3 linked regions of the Homo sapiens genome follow. The protein of the gene in region 2 purifies or fractionates together with the protein of the main gene of each other region. This does not show direct contact. Each region holds a gene or a part of one and is shown on either strand. Other genes may lie near its edges.

What was found.
Region 1: the proteins of FRAS1 (region 2) and ZNF74 purify together in Homo sapiens (co-immunoprecipitation; one large-scale study listed by IntAct). This does not show direct contact.
Region 3: the proteins of FRAS1 (region 2) and EMID1 purify together in Homo sapiens (co-immunoprecipitation; one large-scale study listed by IntAct). This does not show direct contact.

Annotation. Positions count from the first base shown.
Region 1 is NC_000022.11:20,406,553-20,408,955, forward strand, and holds the end of ZNF74 (zinc finger protein 74), read left to right. Parts: coding exon 1-416; 3' UTR 417-1,903; downstream 1,904-2,403. UniProt on the Homo sapiens protein: May play a role in RNA metabolism.
Region 2 is NC_000004.12:78,060,266-78,063,999, reverse strand, and holds part of FRAS1 (extracellular matrix organizing protein FRAS1 isoform 1 precursor), read right to left. Parts: intron 1-3,734. UniProt on the Homo sapiens protein: Involved in extracellular matrix organization. Required for the regulation of epidermal-basement membrane adhesion responsible for proper organogenesis during embryonic development. Involved in brain organization and function.
Region 3 is NC_000022.11:29,229,662-29,233,395, forward strand, and holds part of EMID1 (EMI domain-containing protein 1 isoform 1 precursor), read left to right. Parts: intron 1-1,358; coding exon 1,359-1,479; intron 1,480-1,620; exon of another isoform or gene 1,621-1,655; coding exon of another isoform or gene 1,656-1,704; intron 1,705-1,796; coding exon of another isoform or gene 1,797-1,847; intron 1,848-1,931; coding exon 1,932-2,021; intron 2,022-2,594; coding exon 2,595-2,741; intron 2,742-2,905; exon of another isoform or gene 2,906-3,102; intron 3,103-3,717; coding exon 3,718-3,734.

The sequences.
Region 1 (2,403 bases), on a different chromosome or scaffold from region 2:
AGGCCTTCAGCTGCCACTCGTCCCTCATCGTGCACCAGCGCATCCACACCGGTGAGAAGCCCTACAAGTGCAGCGAGTGCGGCAGAGCCTTCAGCCAGAACCACTGTCTCATTAAACATCAGAAAATCCACTCCGGGGAGAAGTCGTTTAAGTGTGAGAAATGTGGGGAGATGTTCAACTGGAGCTCGCACCTCACTGAGCACCAGAGGCTGCACAGCGAGGGGAAGCCCTTGGCCATCCAGTTCAACAAACACCTGCTCAGCACATACTACGTGCCTGGCAGCCTGCTGGGTGCAGGGGATGCTGGACTGAGGGACGTGGATCCCATCGACGCGCTGGATGTGGCAAAGCTCTTGTGCGTGGTTCCCCCCAGAGCTGGCAGGAATTTCTCCCTGGGGAGCAAACCTCGAAACTAACATGATGTGCTTTGGTGTCAGTAGCTGCTTTCTGAGCTACTCAACAAGGAAAGCACCCTGGTCCTCCCTGGCTCCTAGATCCAGACCACCTTCCTCCAGGTGTGGGAGCCTTGCCTTATCACCCCCATCAGGTCTGCATGCCAGGGTGCCTCCTCTAGTTAAAGTCAGTCACCTCCCCAGAAGGGCCACACTCCAGGAGGAGTGTTGAGAGTCATTTGAGGTAGTCTTGCCACCTGTTTTCCTTGATGGGCCTGGAAGTTGTTGACAAGGGGAAAGATCTTTCTTGCCAATAAAAAGAAGGGATATCGTTGGGTGCCATGGCTCACACCTGTAATCTTAACACTGTGGGAGGCCAAGGCAAGGGGATCACTTGAGCCCAGGAGTCTAGGACCAGCCTGGACAACATGGTGAGACCTCGTCTCTACAAAAAATGCAAAAATTAGCCAGATGTGGCGGCATGTCCCTGTGGTCCCAGCTACTCAGGAGGCTGAGGTGGGAGGATCATTTGAGCCTAGGAGGTCAAGGCTGCAGTGAGCCATGATTCACAGCACTGCACTGCAGCCTGGGTGACAAAGCAAGACCCTGTGTGAAATTAAAAGGAGGTATATCAACTGTTGTATCCTCGGACGGGCTCCTGACACGGCTTTAATCAGGAGTTTCCTCCATAAACTATTATTTTCAGAATAATAATAAAACAAGAATTATGACTAGCATCACTTTCCAGTGAACATTATTATATTGCTAGAGAGGAGAATAATCTTGGGTGGTGGGCATTTGGAAAAAGTGAATTTCCTGGACTTAACTCATGTAAATAGCTCTACTGCAGAGCTGTGTGTTTAGTGACAGTGCAGTCAGGGGCATTCCCACAGCTGTCACAGCACGGCCCAGCATCATTGTAGCCAGATCCTAACATGCCAACATCACCTCTTGCCATTTAGCCCCTAGTGAGAAATTGGGAGCTACCAGGCAGGTGCCCAGTGCATTCAGGGAAGATGGGCACAACATCAGGATGGGTGTGTCTGGAAGCTCCTCTTCACTGACCAGGGCTGGGCAGGGCCACCCTGGGCTGGTGAGGCTGCCCTGCAGGGCTTCTCACTATGTAGCACCAGTCACCAGCCCAGGTCACAGAAGAAGCCCCTCCCAGCACCCACTGGAGAGGGGAAGCTGAAGCCCAGGGAGACGGGCTCCATGGTGGTCCCACATGGAGCTGTTTTGCAAACCCTGGAAAAGGCGGCTCTCCCTGTCCCAACACTCTTCAGAGACAGGAAGACAGAGTTAATCTTGAATGAATGTTATTTCTACTTAGTCCTAAGCAAGAATAAGCTGCCCTCTTGGTGATCATACTTTATACGGAGTGCTATCGTTTATGAAATGCTTTCAGTATGCTTTTTAAATTATGCAGGCAAAATAACCACACTTCAGAAAATGTGGACTTCTGAAAAATAAAATCCCCATAATTCTTAATAAAACTGCCTTTTGCACTTTGATACATTACCCTCTGCTTTGTTCATGTAGAACTTTGCATTATTTTCAACACAGTGTATCTATAGTTTTTATCTTTTTTCCCTCTTTAGCTTTGTAGCAGATTTTTTTTTCAAGCATCTAAACTGTCCTCGTTATACTTCTTTTTTTTTTAAATTATACTGTAAGTTCTAGGGTACGTATGCACAACGTGCAGGTTAGTTACATATGTATACATGTGTCATGTTGGTGTGCTGCACCCAGTAACTCGTCATTTAACATTAGGTATATCTCCAAATGCTATCCCTCCCGCCTCCCCCCACCCCACAACAGGCCCTGGTGTGTGATGTTCCCCTTCCTGTGTCCATTGTTCAATTCCAACCTATGAGTGAGAACATGCGATATTTGGTTTTTTGTCCTTGCGATAGTGTGCTGAGAATGATGGTTTCCAGCTTCATCCATGTCCTTGTTATACTTCTAAACAGAGGCACAGTGTTCTCTCTGGTCTCTTAGATACTCTTTTGTT
Region 2 (3,734 bases):
TAAATACATATGAACACAATTCACTTTCTAAATTACTTATATGGACATATTTAATTATTTCTGGTGTTTAGAAAATTTAGAATAAAGATCATCATCACTTAGGTACAATTTAACAAAATTTAAACTTTAGATTAAACAAAACTTAACTTTTAGAAAAAACACAAACAAAATTTAATCTTTAAAATAAGACTATCCTCAAATAATTTTATTGCTCTCCACAGCATTACCTTCCAAAGTCAATTTCTTTTCAAAGCTCCAAAGGAAATCAAGCACCTTAAGAAGTATCTGAGTACCCATATCAAAACCTATTTTTGGAAGTTTAGATAGCCATGATAAACTCACTGCAGTATGAAAAAAATAAAGTAGCACTGAGTGTGGCACCACATCTATACCTGGGCAAGCCATGCATCTGCTGGAGACTCAAGCCAAAATGGTGTAGAGCTGCTGAAAAATTATATCATTAGGAAAAGGAATTAATTCAATTTGGGTTGCTTTGTATTGTACAATTCCAAAAGAAATAAGCTTTGCCCTCTGAGAGCTTTCCTAAAACAGAACAGTTCTACCTGGAAGGCAGCTGCATGAATGAGCCTCCATTAACACAGCTTCCAAAACCTCATTTCTACTCTCTTGAGAAAAAAAGCATTCCAGTGTGATGCCCAGTTCTATCAAACATTTATCATCACCCAATACCAGATGCAGCATCCAAAGGAAGCATATTTCTCTCACACACCCACCAGCAGATGAAGTTGAGGGGTTTGTTGACATGGGTACTGGGTGTAGCTTCTGGTTGAAAGCCAGAGTGGAGGTCTTTTCACTAATCCGTCAGTTCACATAATATGGAAAACAAAATTCATCTCTCGACTCATTATTTTTTTTTCTTCAGGAGTACAAGAATGATTGCAGGTCTATTTGACGTTTATATTTATGGCAGGGAACTTTAAAGAAAATTCCAGCTCAAGGTGAATTCTGTGAGAGAGTGCTGATCTAGAAGAAGAAATGAGCCTCCCTCAAAGGAAAACTGAGGAAAAACCGGAGACAACAGGAGTAGTTCTCTAACTATGAACAATGCCAATTTCAAGGCACAGAATGCAGCTGAGATGCCAGGTAATTTAAGTTCTAACACCTCACAACCTGTGAGAAAGAGCATAAAGTTTTGCAGGGTGAAGTAATTTTATAGTGTCAAGAAGGAAGCCCAGATCCTGAGACCTGAGCTGCTCTTTTACTGTGTGGCTGGCTCATTTCTTGCAGGTCACACAGAAAAAACGTTACTGCATAAAATTTAAACAAGTAAATGTCTGTTTTTAATCCCTTTTGCACATTATAATATACGCCTTTATGAGATGACTGTATAAAATCTAGTATTTTTGGAGAAATTTTGAGATATAATTTGCATATATTCTGAAACCGTTGGTAAACTGAGTAAATTAGAGAAGTTAAATCCAAGCACCACAAAATGTCAGACCCATTAGTTCAAAGAAATAGTGGCAGATACAACCATTAAGATACAAAAAGATTTGGAGAGCATGGTACCACAAGAACATGACTCATTAGGAACAAGCAGCCACAAGTTGGCATTTAAATGTTCAGGCTTTATGTTGTGTTATAATTCAGCATATGGCTGTGTGCACTGTGGAATACTTAAAATAGAATCATTTTCTGAACTGACAGGACAGCTCATGTCCTGATTATTGTCAACTAGGATTTAGATCAATTAATAGAGTAGTTAAAATGAAAGTGGGCCAACTGTTTTGGAACTACGGTAAGATTTGGCATGAGGCTCCAACTTTGACATGTGGTAGTCCCCTCCCCTACTCTGAGCCATGTGTTAAAGAATATTTTATGACTACTTGTGTGAGTACAGTTGGGTGACATTGCCACCCAAGTCCATAACAGTGAATACGGATGGCTGGGTCCTTACTAAAGGATGTACACTATATAAGGAGAGTAATGCCCAGAATCCAATCTTCAGAGGGCAATGGAAATATAATTGATGAAAATAAGAGTCCACAACAACACCTCTTTATTTCCATTGCCAGGTAATTACAAAAGCCAAAGGATGCAAAGTTACAACCATCATCTAACGTTTCCATACTGAGAAACCCACCAAGGACCAAATGTTCCCATATCCCTACTGCTATTCAACTGACATTAATGATTTCTAGATATGCAAACTCCTTGAGCGCAGGAGGTTTTTTTGGCTTTGGTTTTGATGTCTGTACCCACCTACTGGACATAACCTGACACAGAACCTCTCAATAAAGGCTTGCAGAATAAAAGAATTAGGTTACTTTTTTCCAGCCAAGTTCTTCTCTTCCCAACATTGAGTTATTGAGTTTCAAGCATAGAGTCTCTCAGTGAAACAACTCTGCAGCCCAGAGTGCAACTACCCTAACTCACCCATAAATAAAACATATTGTCTATCAAATGAGCCTCTTCAATGTAACCTGTTAAATAGCATTTATAGGAAAAACCCGGGATTCAGCGTTTGTGGGAATGGCTAAAATCACATGGAGAGTGATGGGACACAGACTAAAGCTCAATTCTCTTAACCTCCAATTCAATGATGTTTCCCTATCCCAAGGCAACTGTCTTATCTACTGTAACTTCACAGGACTTCCATATGTCAACAGAACTCAAGATATTTCTCCAGAAAAAGCCATGGTAGAGTTTCTGTGATTCAGAAAGCAGCCATGTTAGAAGCTTCTTTGTGACTTCTTGATTTTATTAAGTTCTCAAGTCATAGCATTAATACTTTACCAGTTTAGCAATATAAGGCCATATAAAATAACACTGCCAATAATTTGCTTGTAAAAATTTATTTTTCTTTTGATATTTCTTTTGATAAAATTTAGAGGCCAGGCACAGTGGCTCACACCTGTAATCCTAGCACTTTAAAAGGCCAAGGCAGGCAGTTCACTTGAGGTCAGCAGTTCAAGACCAGCCTGGCCAACATGGTGAAACTCTGTCTCTACTAAAAATGTGAAAATTGGCTGGGCATGGTGGCGCACATCTGTAATCCCAGCTACTCAGGAGGGTGAGACATGAGAATCGCTTGAGGCCAGGGGGCAGAGGCAGCAATGAGCTGAGATTGCACCACTGCACTCTAGCCTGGGTGATAGAGCAAGACTGTGCCTCAAAAAAAAAATAATAAAAATAATAAAATTTAGAACCAGAAAATTGCAATTGACCACTAATAATGCAGCAAATACTGATCTCTTTTTCTTCTATGTTTGATGATTAGCCAAAGTATCTTAGAGCTATCACGTAATGTACCTCATTTAGTAAATGACAGAACTATAGCGCAAAGAGGTTAGATGGTTCATTCAAGGTTAGTGAGCTAATCAGAGGCCAGTCCACCAGTTAAGCTTAATTCAAAATAATATAATTTGGCAATACTGTTCATCTGACCAATTTTTTGAGCACTTAGTGTATACTAGGAGCTGAACTGAAGATATCAGAATTAATAGGAGCCATCCTAACCCCTCAATAAGCACACAGCTAAGTGAGGAAGACCAAACCCATACCAACCACAATTGTTCTCTCTGTGCACTGAGAAGAAAACGACAAATTCTGCCATAAGCTGGTCAGCAAAGGTGTCACAAGGTACATCCCATCAAAAGAAGTATACATGTGAATGTCTCTTTTCTATTTTTAAAAATTATTCTCTAGGCTGATAATAAAAACTTGAGGAGATTTCTAAGATCCTTGAGGTTTCCAACCTTGATCTCAATGCT
Region 3 (3,734 bases), on a different chromosome or scaffold from region 2:
AGATGCCCCTGATTTATCAAATGGGAAAACCAAGCTTCCAAATAGCGTGTGCTGGCACCTGAGTTACAAGGCACGGGGTTCCAGGAGCAGTTCCCTGAGCTCCCTCCCAGGAGAAGCCCATGTAAGAGGCAACTCAGTCCCACATCTTGATGGGAATTCCTGGTTCAGGATCTGCCAGAGAGTTTCAGCTTTTCTCTGGACAGGCCCCCACGATCCCTGAGCCCCTGATCTGTGGTCATCTGGCCTTTCGTTGGTCCTCAGCAGCTGAGGGGACACTTCCAGCTTCCCAGAGTCTTCCTCACCATGGGCCCAAAAGTGGACTTTGTGTACACCTCCAGGTTTCTATTTCATGTCAGACTCTTCCAAACTTCCTTCCAAATTTAGTGAAAGGCCGGGAGTGGTGGCTCACGCCTGTAATCCCAACACTTTGGGAGGCTGAGATAAGCAGATCACTTCAGGTCAGGAGTTTGAGACCAGCCTGGCCAATGTGGTCAAACCCCATCTCTACTAAAAATACAAAAATTAGCTAGGTGTGGTGGCGCATGACTGTAATCCCAGTTACTCTGGAGGCTGAGGCAGGAGAATCACTTGAACCCGGGAGGCGGAGGTTGCAGTGAGCCGAGATCGTGCCACTACACTCCAGCCTGGGCAACAGAGCAAGGCTCTCCATCTTGGAAAAAAAAAAAACAAAAAAACAAACTAAGTGAAACTCTTCCAGCCATACCCTGTGGTGCTTTAAGAAATCAAGACAAGCTTCTTATTTGGATAACCATAGAGAAAAAGCACATGGCCCAGCAAGCACCGCGACAGTCACAAAGCTCAACTTTGATGGCAATGATGGTGTCAGTGACTTTTCCATAATGCGTGTTATGAATTGTGTGCTTTGAAAAACACTGTCACTTCTGATGAAGTTCGGTGCCCCTGCGAGCCTGGGGCTCCACTCCAAGCTGGGCCCTGCTGGCCATGTGCCTCCTGCCTCCCACACCAGGCCCCTTGGCTGGCCTGTCCGTGGTGAGACCCTGGCTCATGCCTGTAATCCCAACACTTTGGGAGGCTGAGGCAAGATGATTGCTTGAGCCCAGGAGTTCAAGACCAGCCTGGGCAACATAGCGAGACCTCGTCTCTACAAATAATTTTTTTTTAAATTTGCCATGTGTGGTGGTGCATCCCTGTGGTCCCAGCTACTTGGAAGGCTGAGGCAGAAGGATCGCTTAAGCCCGGGTGGTTGAGGCTGCATGAGCCGTCATAGTACTACTGCATTCTAGCCTGGGCAACAGAGCAAAACTCCATCTCAAAAAAAATAGGGAGGGGTCCTAGTGAGACCCTGGTACCCACCCCGTCCCTGTCTTCCTCTTCAGATGACCATGCTGACTGTCATAGAGCAGCCAGTACCTCCAACACCAGCTACCCCTGAGGACCCTGCCCCGCTCTGGGGTCCCCCTCCTGCCCAGGGCAGCCCCGGAGATGGAGGCCTCCAGGGTGAGTGTCAGACTCAGACTCCCCTGTGGGAATGAGCAGTGGGTTGGGAATCGGGGAAGTGGGATTCTGGTCCCCACCCTGTCGCTGACTCCCAACTTAACCCTCTAGTGGGCCTCAGTCTTCCCATTTCCCGTTTCTTAGACCCGCCTAAGAGGACCGTCTCCTGGGACTCCTGAATGCTGCAGTCCCTGGAGACCAAGCAGCCCCAGCAGACCCTGCCTGGAGGTCGGGGGGAGCTGGGAGTGGGGATTCTGGATGAGCCTCCCTCCTCCAGGCCCAGCAGGGACACTGACCTCTGCCTACCCCCCCCACCCCAGGGCTGCCAGGAGCCATAGAGAGTGTGAGGGTCCCGCTGCTTCCCCGAAATGGTAGATGCTGGTTGGGGGGCTGGGGCCAGGGTGGGGGTCAAGAGCAGATGTGGAGCTGCCAGTCTGATATGCTTTACCCCCCAGACCAAGTCGGTGCTTGGGGGCTTCCCGGGCCCACCGGCCCCAAGGGAGATGCCGGCAGTCGGGGCCCAATGGGGATGAGAGGCCCACCAGGTGAGTGCCCGCAATGCTGCCCCACAGCTCCTCTGGCCATCCCCTCCACCAGGTGGGCCCTTCCCTGCTCCTGACATGGCCAGGATGACCTGGGCCCTTTCATCTACTTGCCTCTTCACTCAGCACCCCACCACGGAGTGCCCTGCCCACGCCTGGGCTCCATGAAGTCCTCTCTTATGTTCACTGACCCACATTCCCTGGGCACCTACACTTATCAGGCTCTGAGCTGGGCACTGGGTGGGGTCAGACATGTCCCTGCCCTTCTGGAGCTTCCATGCTGCTGGGAGCAGGGCTGGGCAGAGGAGAAGCAGCAATGCTTGCCCCATGTGACCAGGGTTTCTATGAGGGGTTTTGGGGGTTTGGGAGCCCCAAGGAAGGAAGACTCAGCCTGGACGAGGTGGAGAACTAGGTGCTGTGCTCATCCCCCTGTTAGACTACCAGGCAGCCTAGGCCTGTGGACTCCGGGGCCCTCTCTCATGCCCACTGCTCCAGGCTGCCTTGTCCTGTCGCTCAAGGCCACCCTGGGCCTCCTTGCCTCCTGTATACCCACAAATCCGTGTGATTCCATTGCAGGTCCACAGGGCCCCCCAGGGAGCCCTGGCCGGGCTGGAGCTGTGGGCACCCCTGGAGAGAGGGGACCTCCTGGGCCACCAGGGCCTCCTGGCCCCCCTGGGCCCCCAGCCCCTGTTGGGCCACCCCATGCCCGGATCTCCCAGCATGGTGAGTCCCCCTGGGATCCCAGCAGGTGGAGGTGGGGGTGGAGTAGCCATCAGCACAGTGCCCGCTACCATCTGCCACGTGCCTTCTGTGTGCCAGCCCTGCTCACGATAGGCCACATGTGACCCAGTCCTCCAGCAGGCGCCGTTGTCCTCCTGTGGTTACAGGTGAGGAACACTGAGGACCAGAGAGGGAAGGTGGCTTGCCAGGGTCCCACAGCCTGGGCGTAGGGGAACGGCTTCAAACCCAGGCTGCCTCCAGAACCTGTGCTTAGAGCCACCGGGCATCAGGCCCTCCCAAGCCTTGGAACTGGCTGGAATCCAGTTCTCGGAACACTGGGACGCAAAAGACCCGGCGGCAGGAAGTGAGTCCTGAACTCCCAAGGCCACAGGCCCGGCCCCTCCTCCAGGCCCTGACGTGCGTCCTTGGCTTCTTCCCTTTGGCAGCCCAGCCTGACCTGCCCATGGGCTGCCAGGGGTCAGAGTGTGGAGCGCCAGGTTTCAGCCTCTTCTCCACTGTGTTTTTGGTGCACAACCCAGCACACCATTCATTCATTCTGCCATCCCAGCATTCATTCCATCTCACTATCCATACGATGGGGACAATGACAGTGCCAGCCTCCCAGAGCTGCGTAACATCCATGTACAGAAGCCTGGCACACAGTAGGTGGTGGATAAATGGTATCTTTTATTGTCATTCCCATTTGACAGGTGACAGTACAGGCTCTGAAAAGTAGAAAGTGTTGCTGGATGTCACCAGCTGGATTGCAGTGGGGTTAGAACCCACATCTCCCTGCCTCCTGGTCTTGCGGGACCAACACTCTCCACACTCCTCACCCTGGAGCAGGTGCCCAGGTGGTACCAGCCATGCTGCAGGCTGCCCCATAGGGCAGTCCAAGCTGTCTTGGCAGAGGTGGCAGGTGAAGACTAACCACCCCACTCTACCCAGCTCTACTCACTCATCATCTTTGCTCACCCAGGAGACCCATTGCTGTCC